Linked DNA regions of Homo sapiens. The protein of the gene in region 1 interacts with the protein of each later gene in a pairwise test. Each region holds a gene or a part of one and is shown on either strand. Other genes may lie near its edges.

Region 1 (7,023 bases):
GCCGAGTGATGAATTCCTGGACATTCTTTTTTTTTTTTCCTCCCCAGGAGACAGGTCCTCTTTCGATTGATTGATTTTTTTTTTTTTTTTTTGGGATGGAGTCGTGCTCTGTCGCCCAGGTTGGAATGCAGTGGTGCAATCTCAGCTCACTGCAGCCTCCGCCTCCCGAGTTCAAGAGATTTTTGTACCTCAGCCTCCCCAGAAGCTGGGACAACACCATGCCCGGCTAATTTTTGTATTTTTAGTAGACGGGGTTTCACCACGTTGGCCAGGCTGGCCTTGAACTCCTGACCTCAAGTGATCCGCCTGCTTCAGCCTCCCAAAGTGCTGAGCCACTGGCCTGGCCTGTTTTGTTTTGTTTTGAGAGAGGATCTTGCTCTGTTGCCCAGGCTGGAGTGCAGTGGCTGGATCATAGCTCACTGCAGCCTCCAACTCCTGGGCTCAAGCGATCTTCCCACCTCAGCCTCCCAGAGTGCTGGGATTACAGGTACGTGCCACCACGCCCAGCCCTCACTGGAGGCCCTTCTGTCATCAGCTGCCTCAGGTTGCTGCCAAACCCAGGGAAAGATTTCAGTGGATGTTCAATATTATTATTGTTATTATTCTCTGCTGACATCTTGTCTAGGCAGCACTTTATCATTATTATCAGCTGTTTGATCTGGGGCCCACACTTTCCTCCTGCTGAGCCTCCTCTCCCCTATCCGTTAAAAGGGATGATCCTGGCCAGGCACTGTGGCCCACGCCTGTGATTCCAGCACTTAGGGAGGCCGAGGTGGGCGGATCACCTGAGGTCAGAAGTTTGAGACCAGCCTGGCCAACATGGAGAAACCCAATCTCTACTAAAAATACAAAAAAAAAATTAGCCAGGCATGATGGCACATGCCTGTTGTCCCAGGTTGGGAGGCTGAGGCAGAAGAATCGCTTGAATCCGGGAGGTGGAGGTTGCAGTGAGCCAAGATTGCGCCACTGCACTCCAGCATGGGTGACAGAGACTCCGTCTCAAAATAACAACAACAACAAAAACAAAAACCCAGAAAGTGGTGATCGTAAATGTGAGCTTTCTTGGCTTTCCTGGAAGGTTAACTGCTTAGCCAGGCAATCTGACTCAGATTTGACGGCGAAGACAATGAAAGTGTGTGCTTTTGTTCCAGGCCCTGCAAATGGTCCCCAGTGGGGCAGGTTCACCAGTTTCCTTGTCTCCACTCTCTGGAGGTTCATATTTAACATTATTGGTTTTTGGAGAAGTGGGAGAGGACAGAGGGAACCCAGGTTAGGGGGCTGGGGGAATAGGACCTTCAGGAATTACTCTAGCCTTGAAATCCTGGATTCTCCACTGCCAGCCTGTGTGTGATCCCGGGTAAGTCACACTTTCGAGCCTGAAGATGTTCTCTAAACTGTAAGCATCAGGCAAAAGCAGTGTCTCATGCCTGTAATCTCAGCAATTTGGGAGGCTGAGGCAGGAGGATCTGCTCAGGCCAGGAGTTCAAGACCAGCCTGGGCAACATGGCAAGACACCTCTCTCTACACAAAAATTTAAAAAATTAGCTAGGCGTTGTGGCACACCTGTAGTCCCAGCTACTTGGGAGGCTGAGGTGGGAGGATGGCTTGAGCTCAGGAGGTCGAGGCTGCAGTGAGCTATGATTGTGCCACTGCACTCCAGCCTGGGTGACAGAGTGACATGCTGTCCCTAAGACCAAAACCAAAACCAAAATGTAAGCATCATAGTAATACAGTCTCTACCTCCCAAGGTTGTGCTGGGGATTTAATGACTACCTGTATAGAGAAGGCTTGTGTATTAGTTAACTATTGCTGGGTAACACTTATCCTAAAATTGAGCAGCTTCAAACAATAAACATTTCTGATCTCTTATAGTTTCCAAGGGACAGGAATCCAAGAGTGGCTTAACTGGATTATTCCGGCTCAGGGTGTTCCATGTGGTTGTGGTCAGATGTCGGCCAGGACTGAAGTCACTTAATGGCTTGGCTGAGGCTGGGGAACTAACCTCCATGGTAGCTTACTCTCATAGCTGTTGGCAGGAGGCCTCATTTCTTTGCCACATAGACCTCTCCGTGGGATGGCTTGAGCATCCTCACAACATGGCGGCTGGCTTTCCTTAGAGCTAGCCTTGGAAGCCACGCTCTGTCATTTCTGCAATATCCTGTTGGTTACACACGTCAGCCAGCTTGTTAGTAGGGACTACACAGGGCATGAATATCAGGGGGTAAGGATTATTGGGAGTTACCTTGGAGGCAGTTTGATTTTGGGGATTTAATGTAGCTGCTTTTGATTTTATTGTCAGCACTGAGCCTTCTCGTGACATTCCTACCAGGTTTTACTTGTTCTTTCTGCTTTTCTCCATGATCAATCTGCTATGGTCACACAGGGTGCCTTGTTTCTTCTCCAACAAGACCAAGTTGGAGACCCTGTCTTGCTCAGGGTGACGGTGTGAGATTCCAGCCTCCAAGCCTTTGCACCTGCTGTTTTTTTAATTTTTTTTTTTTGCCTGGAAATCTCTATTCCAGATCCACACAAATTCCTAGATGCCTCACCCACCCCAAATGCCTTCACTCTCATAACAACCTGTTTTATTTTCCTGGGAGTTCTTGAAACTTTCTGAAGGCTTTTTTTTTTTTTTTTTTTTTGACAGAGTCTTGCTCTGTTGCCCAGGCTGGAGTGCAGTAGTGCCATCTCAGCTCACTGCAACCTCCGCCTCCCGGGTTCAAGCGATTCTCAAGTAGTTGGGATTACAGGCACCCATCATCATGTCTGGCTAATTTTTGTATTTTAGTAGAGATGGGGTTTCACCATGTTGGCCAGGCTGATCTCAAACTCCTGACCTCAAGTGATCCTCATAACTCAGCCTCCCAAAGTGTTGGGATTACAGGCAAGAGCCCCTGCTCCTGGCCATGGCATCTTTATTAAAAAAAAAAAAAAAAAAAAAAAAAAAAAAAAAAAGGCAGGGCGTGGTGGCTCACGCCTGTAATCCCAGCACTTTGGGAGGCCGAGGCGGGTGGATCACATGAGGTCAGGAGTTCGAGACCAGCCTGGCCAACATGGTGAAACCCCATCTCTACTAAAAATACAAAAATTAGCCAGGTATGGTGGCAGGCCCCTGTAGTCTCAGCTACTTGGGAGGCTGAGGCAGGAGAATCACTTGACCCTGGGAGGCAGAGGCTGCAGTGAGCCGAGATCAAGCCATTGCACTCCAGCCTGGGGGACAAGAGTGAGACTTCATCTCAAAAAAAAAAAATTTTTTTTTCCTTGTTTGTTATTGGTTTCTCTAGGAACGGAACCAAGAAGTTCAATTCTATGAGAACAGAGAAGCTGCGGTCTTATTTCTTCCTATATTCCTAGTTCCTAGAGCAGGGAAGGCATTCAAAAAATATTTACTGAATGAACAGTAGAATCTCAACTTAAAATAAACAGAATCTGTCCCCCTCCTCATGTGAGGGATGAGAAGGAAAGGACAGTGAGAGGAACGGAAGAGTGGGAGCTCACAATAAACACCATCCATTTTTAATTCTTTTTCTTATGTTTCAAATATTTATTGGGGGTGCTGGGGACATGGCAGGAACCGAGATATTACCAGTCCCTGAACTCAGGTAACTGATAGAATTTGAGGGAGAGAGATAGATAAACAAACATATAAATATGTCGTTTAATACAAGCTGTGTCTTGAAGAAAAGGAGGTAGGGAGCGTGTGTGTGTGTGTGTAAAATCCAGTTTAGGGGCGTAGGTTGCTTTCTCTGGGGAAAGTAGCTGAGCTGAGACGTGGAGGAGAAGGGGTTAGCTGGTGAGAGGGGCTTTGGGGTGGGGGAGAGGCGTTCCTAGCCCAGGAAACGGCTTATGCAAATAGCTGTGGAGGGTGAGAGGTTTTCTGAGTCCATCCTAATGAGGGCAATGAGGAACCCTCAGAGGGTTTTCATGTTCTGTTTGCTTTTTTGAAGATTTTATTGTTGTTTTTGCTTTTGACAAGAACACACACACACACACACACACACACACACACACACACACACACACACAATTAAAAAGTAATCCAAACTATAGAGACAAGATATGGCTTTAGCATTCCTTCCCAGAGGCAGTCACTGGTGCCAGTAGCTTGCTTCCTTCCTGGGAATTTTCTACGCATATACAAGTGTATATTCTACACATGAGTAAAATCAATGCCTCATTTTGTTTATTAATTCATAATTATAATACTTATTATTTTTGAGATGGAGTCTCACTCTGCCTCCCAGGCTGGAGTGCACTGGCATAATCTCGGCTCACTGCAACCTCCACCTCCCAGGTTCCAGAGGGTCTCCTGCCTCCGCTTCCCAAGTAGCTGGGATTACAGGCATGCACCACCATGCCTGGCTAATTTTTGTATTTTTATTTTATTGTATTTTTATTTTTAAATTTACTTTATTATTATGACTCTTTTTTTGAGATGGAGTTTCGCTCTTGTTGCCCAGGCTGGAGTGCAATGGCGTGATCTCGGCTCACTGCAACCTCTGCCTCCCGGGTTCAAGTGATTCTCCTGCCTCAGCCTCTGGAGTAGCTGGGATTACAGGCGCCCACCACCACGCCTGCCTAATTTTGTATTTTTAGTAGAGACAGGGTTTTGCCATGTTGGCCAGGCTGGTCTTGAACTCTTGACCTCAGGTGATCCATCTGCCTCGGCCTCCCAAAGTGCTGGCATTACAGGCGTGAGCAACTGCACCTGGCCTATTTATTGTTATTATTGAGACAAGGTCTTCCTCTATTGCCTAGGCTGGTGTGCGGTGGCATGCTCATAGCTCACTGCAGTCTCCAAATCCTGGGCTCCAGTGATCCTCCTGCCTCAGCCTCCTGAGTAGCTGAGACTACAGGTGCGGACCACCATGCCTGACCAATTTTTGTATTTTTTTTTTTGTGGAGACAGCGTTTTGCCATGTTACCCAGGCTGGTCTCGAACTCCTGGGCTCAAGCAATCTGCCCACCTTGACCTCCCAAAGTGCTGAGATTATAGGTGTGAGACACAGCACCTGGCCATCTGCATTGTTTTAAAAATCACAAATGGTTGCGAGGTATACATACTGCCCAGCACCATACTTGTTTCCTTTGAATATATAAATATTATAATTTTATAATATTTATAATATATAATAACACAAATAATAATAAATATATATGGTTTGGTCATATACAATATATAAAATAACATTCACAAACACTTATTGTCAAAGTGCAATTAAATGGGAAAAAAAGAAAAACATTTGGCCAGGTGTGGTGGCTCATGTCTGTAGTCCTAGCACTTTGGGAGGCTGAGGTGGGAAGATCACTTGAGCCCAGGAGTTGGAGGCTGCAGTGAGCTATGGCAACGCCGCTGCACTCCGGCCTGGATGACAGAGGGAGACCTTGTCTCTTAAAAAACCCCAAAAAACAAATCTGATTCTCTGACGCATATATAATAAGCACAGGTCAAAGATTTATTTAAGTCATGAATGAAGGAACCAGCTGTTTCAAAGGAGAATTTGGGCCGGGTGCAGTGGCTCACGCCTGTAATCCCAGCACTTTGGGAGGCTGAGGTGGGTGGATCACGAGGTCAAGAGATTGAGACCATCCTGGCCAACATGGTGAAACCCCGACTCTACTAAAAATACAAAAATTAGCTGGGCGTGGTGGCGGGTGCCTGAGGTCAGGAGTTCGAGACCAGCTTGGCTAACAATGGTGAAACCTTGTCTTTACTAAGAATACAAAAAATTAGCTGGGTGTGGTGGCTCATGCCTGTAATCCCAGCTACTTGGGAAGCTGAGGCAGGAGAATAACTTGAACCCAGGAGGTGGAGTTTGCAGCAAGCCGAGATTGTGCCACTGCACTCCAGCCTGGGCGACAGAACAAGACTCCATTAAAAAAAAAAAAAAGGAGAATTTGATGAACAGAAGTTGATAGGTTTAGTCAGGAAAGACGGGCTGGAGAAAATTTGCCAGGTTAGATACAAAACTGGTTAAAGACCTACAGGACAATACAACTGTAACCTTTGAGGTTACCTTTTCTACCAGAGAGAAATCATTTGCAACCAAACTTCCTGGGGTTACCATTTACCTTGTCGAAGTCTAGACTCTAATCAATAATGAATAACAGACCGGGTGTAGTGGCTGACGCCTGTAATCCCAGCACTTTGGGAAGCCGAGGCAGGCGGATCACGAGGTCAGGAGTTCGAGACCAGCCTGGCCAACATGGTGAAACCCCGTCTCTACTAAAAATACAAAAATTAGCCGGGCATGGTGGCGCATGCCTGTAATCCCAGCTCCTCAGGAGGCTGAGGCAGGAGAATCGCTTGAACCCAGGAGGCAGAAGTTGCAGTGAGCCGAGATCGCGCCACTGCACTTTAGCCTGGGCGACAGAGCAAGACTCTGTCTCAAAAAAAAAAAAAAAAAAAAAGAATAGTAAATCAAATACAGGTACAGTCCCTTAGAATAGGGTCCCCAACCCCCGGTTTGTAGTCTGTTAGGCATGGGGTTGCACAGCTGGTGAGCAAGCATTACTGCCTGAGCCCCGCCTCCTGTCAGATCAGCGGTGGCTCTAGACTCTCACAGGAACGTGAACCCTATTGTGAACTGCACGTGCGAGAGATCTAGGTTGTACACTCCTTATGAAAATCTAAGGCACTGCCCACTCCCATCCATGGAAAAATTATCTTCTACGAAACCAGTTTTTGGTGCCAAAAAGGTTGAGGACTGCTGCCTTGGAATATGAAGCAAACTTTGGGTGGGTCTGTTAGACAAGACTCCCAGATGACTTGGAAATGGCATGCTGTCAGCTTTTTTTGTCTTATTGCCGAGCCTAGAACTTTTTTTAATTTTTATTTTTTTTGAGATGAAGTCTTGCTCTTGTCTCCCAGGCTGGAGTGCAGTGGCACGATCTGGGCTCACTGCAACCTCTGCCTCCCGGGCTCAAGCGATTCTCCTGCCTCAGCCTCCAGAGTAGCTGGGATTACAGGCGCCTGCCACCACGCCCGGATAATTTTTGTATTTTAGTTGAGACGTTTCACCA
Region 2 (7,919 bases), on another chromosome or scaffold:
TTTTCTTTAAAAATAGCAGTATATGCATCATAGGGTAGTTGAGAGAATTAAATCACAGAATATGTCTAAAGCACTATGTAAAATGCCATGACACGTGGTTAAGTGTTCATTAAATGTTAGTGATGATGACAAATATACAGCAGTTAAGAGAACCTGTATTTAGTATGTATTAAATTGCCTGGGTACATTCAACTTCACCACAAATGTTAGTGGTCCTTAAAGCCACCACTAACAAATTTCTAAGGCAATATATAAGCAACTTAAATATTTTAATAATGCTTGCTCCTCATTTTTACTTACATAAATGGGCTAAAAAGAGATGTATTTAGATGCAGAACAAAGAGTCGCCCGTTGGTATCCACTGGGGACTGGTTCCAGGACCCTCCTCAGATACCAAAATCTGCGCATGCGGCCCTATGGAACCTGCATATATGAAGTCAGCCCTCCACATCCTCAGGTTTCATATCCTGCAAATACTGAATCTTGATACACGTTTGATTGTGGATGCAGAATCTATGGGGACAGAGGGCCAACTACTGAAAAAAATTCACATGAGTAGACCCATGCAGTTCAAACTTGTGTTGTTCATGTGTCAACTGTATACGTTATCTCTACATAAGGACTACAATGTACTTTACTATTCAGATTCTTTTTTAAAAAACAAACAATTAACTGAAAAATTGTGGTTAATGTTTAAGTGAAATAAATTGAAGTATAATTCAAAAAAAATTTCACTTAATATTTCACTTTACCTCTAGGCAAAGTTATGGATCCCCAGTAACGGATAATCTATTATTTATGTGTAAGTCTGTAAATATTCATGGAAATATACCCTTTTCAGATTTATGCTCTCCATTACCTTTGTGTACTAAGCACATTTTCCCTAAACTGAAATATCTCTAATACATCTCCTGGCCTGAGATTACTCAATAGCAATAGAACTGAGGCATCGAGACACTTAACTGCCATACTAGAAAAATGCAACGTTACCTGGAAAACTAGTCTTCATTATATCAATTCCAACTTGCAGCTCAGGTTCAGCAGCAAGCACTGCATAGTCTCCTTGATGAGAGATGTTAAAGTTGAAATTCGGGTAAGGATTCGATGAGTCCTTTGCAAGAACTGGTTTTCCTTTTGCAGTTCTTTGCAAACGAATATGATTCCAAGGGATATTCAATTTCTCTGCAACTAATTTCCTTATCATCAGACGACCAGCCTGTTAAGTACATAAAACATTTGGTATGTACTGATGTCTACTAAAGATACAAGCACACTGTATGCAATAGTACTTTTTTTTGGTTTCTAAAATTTTCATTTTTAAAACTTTTCAAAATACTTAAGTATTAAACACACGTTAATTAAGACTTAAGCAATGCTTAAGTAGATAAAAAGTTAAAGCCCGCCTTAGCAATTCCCTCTCCTTTGCTAGTGACCAAAGTTAACAGCTGGCATCCTGTCAGTCTTTTCTGTATTTAAATATATGTGCATTTACATGTTTTTGCTAACTCTACATATAAACACAAACATGAGATTATACTTATGCAGTATTCTACCACATATAAGCTTTAAATTTATAAGTATTGGGAAGTATTTTATGTCTGTACACACACGTCTGGTCCATGCAGTTTTAACTGTAGCATATTTCATAATATTATTTCCCCTTTATTGGACATTTTAGGCTGGCTCTAGACTTGCTGTCAAAAACAACTCTGCAGTGAGCAACCCTACTGTACCTACATCTGTGCATATGTATTTCTAGATCCCATATATTGATCACCCAGCTTCAACAATTAGCAAGGCATGACCTATCTTGTTCTGCTCTCTCCCACCTCCAATTATTATTTTTTAAATAATTACTAAAAACACACACACAAAAAAACAAGAATATAAGATGACAAAGTATATATTTTTAAAAATATCTTTCAGGTTTTTTTCTTCTTCAATTCTAACACTGACTTTTAAAAACTGCAGGCTTTTAAATGTAGCTTATTTTACAATTCCTTACAAATGAGTAAAAAATTTTCACCAATGTGCCTTAAAAATTATCAACTAGTCTACATTTCAAACAGAAAGTGTTTCAATATGGGACATTTTTAAGAAAGGACTGTCTTTTAAATGATGGTAATTCACGGTTGTTTCAAATTGCACCATATTGTACAGATTACTTGTTTTGAAATCCAGTTTTCCATTTGTTGCTTCAAAATACATAGCTAAAATAAATAAATCTACGTAAAATACTGTTTCCCATGGCATCTAGTGAGGAAGGTATCCTCTCTGGCTTCAATTTCATTGGCTTCAATCCCGGGGAGCGCAGGGCTACAAACTAAATCATACTGTCAATAATTTCTAGGGCCTACCACGTGCAGGGAGTCCTTGGAGAATGATGGGATATTTAACAGGCAGAATAAGCATAGGCTATGAACGCACACAAACAAAAAAAAATAACATTTAAAGATAAAGACATAAAAACATTCATTACAGAAAAACCCAATTTTGTCGGCCTTCCCTACACTTATTTCATGGTTTAGGAGGGTCTCCATTTGAAATAACAAGGGGAAAGAGATAATGTTTACAGCCATCGCGGCCTCCAAGGCGGTTACAAAGGCCGTGGAAACCAGGCCGTGCGTCGCCCACAACTCCGCAGCGCCGGCTGCTGTCGCCCGGGCCGGCCACAGGCTCCACAGCGAGAGGGTCGCGGCCAGCGCGGGAGTGTCGGGTCTCCACAGCCCGGCCCGCCTCCCCCAAGATCTGCTTCCTAGGCTCTAAATACCAAAAAAGACCTGTAGTACCATGGCTGCCTTAGCGTCCCGGGCAAAGACGAACTGGCCAATGCGCTCCTTCTCCTCGGGCTGAATCGATCGCACTGCCAGCAGCCATTCGGCTCGGCTCGGCAGCCAAGTGCCGCAGGAAAAGGCCCAGCGCACGCCCTCCATGGATGGCACCAAGCAGAACCGTTTGGCAGGGAAAACCATACACTGAAAGCGGACCTCGCCGCTATCTCGGGCCTGATGGCGCGGACGCAAACGTGGCCCCACCCCCTTCTTCCCGGCGTCCGTGCGCAGGGGACGGGCCGTCGCTACGCAGACTGGCCCACCGACAGCCCTCCCAGCCCGCCCCCGACTCAGCCACCTCCTCTCGGAGAAAGCAGCTGGGGGCGGAGACGGAGATCAGCCCTGCGCTTTGCGGCATTGTATGACGTCAAGTAGGCGAGGCTTCGGAGGCGAGCGAAGGGCGGGACCAAGGCCAAGAGCCCGACAGTTACGCCACTCACACTTGCGGAAGAGTTAACGGGACAGCGGTGCAGGCCAATCGCAACCAGTCCTCTGGAGGCAGGGAGACTGGGGTGGAGACTTCGGAGACTGCAGTTGCAGGTGGGTGAGCTCCGGGGTCTGAGGGAGGAGTGGGATGGTAGCCCTTATTCTCAGGGTCTGAGTTGGCCCCTGTGACCCACAGAGAAGAGAATGTCCTTGGCTTCAGCTGCTTCGTGTACGGGGCACGAGAGGTTTCCATCTCTAGGAGGGGGTCTGCAGTGGTGCCCCCTGCAGTTGTGCAACGCATCAGCCCTGAGTTCCTTCTTTCCCTGCCCCCATCCGCATCAGCCTAAGACCCACCCTCACACAGTACGCTCCCGACCCTTAGCAGCAGCCTACCTGAAACCCTCCCTCCGAAGGCCGAGCAGAGGCACTATCCCCAGTGCGCAACACTGACCCCGCCTGGATCCGAGGCTGCCAGCGAGCAGCTGAGCTAATGCTGGCTGTTTATTTGGGGCGATGAAGCGACCCAGGTGCTGTTTTGCTATTGCCAAGCCTGGGCTAGAGCACTAGCGAGAAAACAGGATTCCATTGTTGAGGTATCAGTGTTTCCATCATGACAGAGGTCCTTGCTCTAACAGCAACAGAAACAAGTAAATAACTTTGCTCAGTTATTTTCTCAGACTTTGCGAAGGGTCATATTGATGTATGTCTGTTTCCTTAGTTGTTCCGTGTAGGCTGTTGTTGACTCTCGTATGAAAGCCCACGCGATCCAAGTGCCCTGCAGGTTTTGGTCCAGGGAAAAGTTGGTCTCTGCAGATGACTGTAAATGACTACCTGGAGGTCGATTAAAGTGCGGTACTGCGGGATTCAGCCGATTTCCTTCTTCCTCTGACTGCCCGGAAATATCAGCCAAAGGCCAGCGGTAGTAATTAACACAATTACCTGCCTATGATTTCTGTCCTATTTAAGATGGGTTCTATTATGTTTTTATCTATACTTGTCTTCATTAACTTTTCGTGATATCATAAGCCCCCCGAATCCCTCGAAAGTAGATGGGATTCTGAGCACACACACACACAAATTCAGATCCCCAAAGGACAGTAAAACGAATTATTGGCTTAATATATCATCTTAGCTAACCAAAAGCCTGTGTCAGCTGCCATGTTGAAAATCTGCTTACCAGCTGCAGGGAGCTTACAATCTGGTAAGGCAAATAAATCATACGCATAAAAAGTACAATAAGAGACAGTGTAAAGATACGTAAGTGATACTAATACCCATATCAGCAATGATCATAACTCACTTCTCCATTTTTAACTAAGAATCATATAACCTTTCCTTCTTGTCGTTTTAAACTGATTTTTATAACTTTGATACATTACGTTTCTGTTTCCAAAACACTTCTGTGTACGTTATTGCACATGTTCTGTGCACTAGTTATTACTGATGGAGACAATGAGCTCAGAAAGAGAATTTGTTTAAATTCAGGAATTCATATCCCATTATTTTACCATCGAGCAAGATCTCTGTGTATTAGATCTATGGAGCCTAATACACAGACAGTAACGTAGGGATTATTTGTACTTGGTCTAGAATCTAGAATATTCTCCCCTTCTCCCATTATCACATTCCTTGTTTCCTCTGTATCATTCAGGCCCAAATCTCATACCAAACAGAATGTCTCTGTTCACCTAGTCTAAAATAGCTTACTCTCTCCACTTCCAAACCTCAGCCCCAAACCTATCACCCTGTGAACATATTTTATAGGTTTGTTTAATCCCCTTCCCTGTGTGGTTTTACAAATTCTCCAGAGCTTAGCTTAAACCTTCTCTTAGGGCCTACTTCAGAGTACCTTTTTCCAAAACAGTATTGTTTATGTAATTCATTTGGCAGTTATTCTAGTATTGCCTTATGACGTCTCTCCTATTGTCCTGAATTATTTTCATGTGTGTTATCTTGCAAAATAGAATGTACAGTACTTGAGAGGGAATGTCATGTATACCTTTTACAAATAGTATACATGAGTAAATGTTATTAATGACTCCACAATAGATTTATTACTGTCAAGGGTAACACTGCTTTTTATATTCTATCTGCCTTTACTTCCCTCACTTTTATTAAGGAAATATAAATATGCAGTTCATAACTTGCTTAACTATATTAAATGAACCCAACAATTTTATTAAAATATTTTTTACTGCATTGGTCAGGGGAAGAAGAGGACTAAAGTAATAGGGGCTCACTCAGTCTGTAATGATCATCTTGCTTGGTGCTGATCTGTGGCTTCTTAGCAGGATTCTGAGGGACTCGTATTCTATTTCCAGCTCTACCACCAATTGTCTGTGTGACATTGGTCACACAGGATCCTATGTGTGACATAACCTCTTCCATGTATTAATTTCAATGGAAAGGCATCGGATGAGATCATCTCTAAGTCTAGGTGTTTTTTAGATATACTCACTAACTTTTTATTGGGTCACAAACTTTATTCTACCTCAAACCCTTCTTTTTTCCCCCAAGACTTATTTGAATAGCTCCATAATTCTACCAGTTTCTCAAGGAAGAAACCATGATGCTGCTCTTCTTTGACTCCCTATATCCAATCCATCTCCAAGTGTTTTTGGCTCTATTTCTAAAATACAGAAAAATCCATTTATTTCTCTTTATTCCCACTGTTAACAATCTAGTATAACCCACCATCATTTTTCATCTGAAATACTAATCAGTTTTCTAGCCTGCCTGAGAAAGGGGAGCACTCTCTTCCAATGTCTTCTATGCCATAAGCACAACTTGCTTTCAGAGCTAAATCTAGAAATCTATGCCCTTAATTCTTATGTTACATTGCCCTCTAATTAGACTGAGAAGGAGAGGCCAGCAAGGTAGGAAACCTGAAGAATGTTGTGGCACAGAAACTAAAAGACGAGTGTTTCAAGGACTAGTTAACAGTGTGAATTATCCTAAGAGGTGAAATAAGATGAGGAGAGAGAAGTGAGAATTTACCTTCAAGATGGTAGTGTGGTGACATTGACAAGGGCAGTTTTAATGGAGTAAAAGAAAGGAATTTTATTGTAGTGGGTTGAGACGATAACTGGAGGTGATGCTACCACAGAGTGTCCTTTAAAGAAGTTTTTCTGGATTTAGGAAGTAGAAAAATGGAATGGTAGCTAGAGGGAATAAAAGGTCAAAGGACAGATTTTTGTTTGATGTTTGTTTAAAGATGGAAGATACTAGAATTTGCATGCTAATGGAAAATGTCTAGTAGGGTGGGAGAAGCTCTTAATGTATGAGAAGGAAGGGGTATGTGTGTGGGGGGGGGTGTTCGGCATTCTAAAGTAGACTCCAGGGTAGAGGACCTTGTCTATGTTGTTTTTCGCTGTATTTCTAGTATCTAGAATAGTACCTGCCACAATATTTGTTACTCCATAAACTGTCTAATATTTGTTGAATAAATGAATGACTTGGACCCTACTTCTCTTACCTCCTTTCAATTCATTCTTGACATATTAGCTAGAAAAATATTTTTTAAAAAAATGATGTCATGTCACTGTCCAATTTAAAGTAATCAGTCGTTCCTATTTCACTTAGAATAAAATCCCAGCTCCTGTGACCCATAGCATCCTGACTGAGGTAGCAACTGCCTTCTGCAGCCCTATCTCCTAACCCTCTTCCTTTCATTAACTACTCCAGCCACACTGGCCGCCTTTAATTTCCTAAAACTGAAGGACTCCTTTACCCCTGTAGGGCTTTATATGTGATTTCTTCCACCAACCCCTTACCTTCTTATCATTCAATTCTCAAATGACACTTCAGAAAGGCTTTCCCTAATATTGTAGTGGCTGAAAGCAAGGGCTCTTGAGCCAAACTGAGTTCACATACCAACTCCCTGCTTACTTGCTATATGATCTTAGCCAAATTACTTAAATTATCAAAGCCTGTTTTCTCTGTTTGTAAAATGAAGATAAGTATCTCCTTTATCCAGTTTTTTTTTTGAAGATTAAAAGAGTATGTGTAAAACATATAGCATGGGACCAGGCATGGTGGCTCATGCCTGTAGTCAACAGCACTTTGGGAGGCTGAGGCATGAGGATCACTTAAGGCCAGGAGTTTGAGACCAACTTGGGTAACATAGTGAGATCCCATCTCTAAATTAAAAAAAAAAAAAAAAAAAAAGCTGAGTGTGCTAATGCACGCCTGTAAATCCCAGCTACTCAGGAGGATGAAGTGGGAGGACTGCTTGAGCCCAGGAGGTTGAGGCTTCAGTGAGCTGTGATCTTGCCACTGCAGTCCATCCTGGGTGACACAGCAAGACCCTGTCTCAAAAAAACAAACAAAAAATATAGTACAAAGCATGGCACATTATAAGCACTGTATAAGTGTTCCCTGTTACCCCTTTTGTTATTGTCTGAAATTGAATGCCCCATTGTTCATTTTTATTTCCACTTCCTACTTGTGTCTTCACAGTACTTATAAAAATGTATAATTATTTATTTGCCTACTTTATTTATTATGTCATTTTCACCAGATACTGGACAAGGAAAAAGCAGGGACCATGTCTGTCTTTTATTCTCTTTATATCTCTAGTGCCTAATTCGGTGCTTGTCATATACTTAGCATCTATAATAAATATTTACTAAAATAGGCCAGAAATCATGCTGTATATTGAAA

The links. The genes of interacting proteins can lie anywhere in the genome.
Region 2: the proteins of CRX (region 1) and AASDHPPT interact in binary tests that used the Homo sapiens proteins (3 or more experiments, as listed by UniProt).

Annotation. Positions count from the first base shown.
Region 1 is NC_000019.10:47,824,917-47,831,939, forward strand, and holds part of CRX (cone-rod homeobox protein), read left to right. Parts: intron 1-7,023. UniProt on the Homo sapiens protein: Transcription factor that binds and transactivates the sequence 5'-TAATC[CA]-3' which is found upstream of several photoreceptor-specific genes, including the opsin genes.
Region 2 is NC_000011.10:106,072,764-106,080,682, reverse strand, and holds the start of AASDHPPT (L-aminoadipate-semialdehyde dehydrogenase-phosphopantetheinyl transferase), read right to left. Parts: upstream 3,022-7,919; 5' UTR 2,973-3,021; coding exon 2,790-2,972; intron 1,217-2,789; coding exon 991-1,216; intron 1-990. UniProt on the Homo sapiens protein: Catalyzes the post-translational modification of target proteins by phosphopantetheine.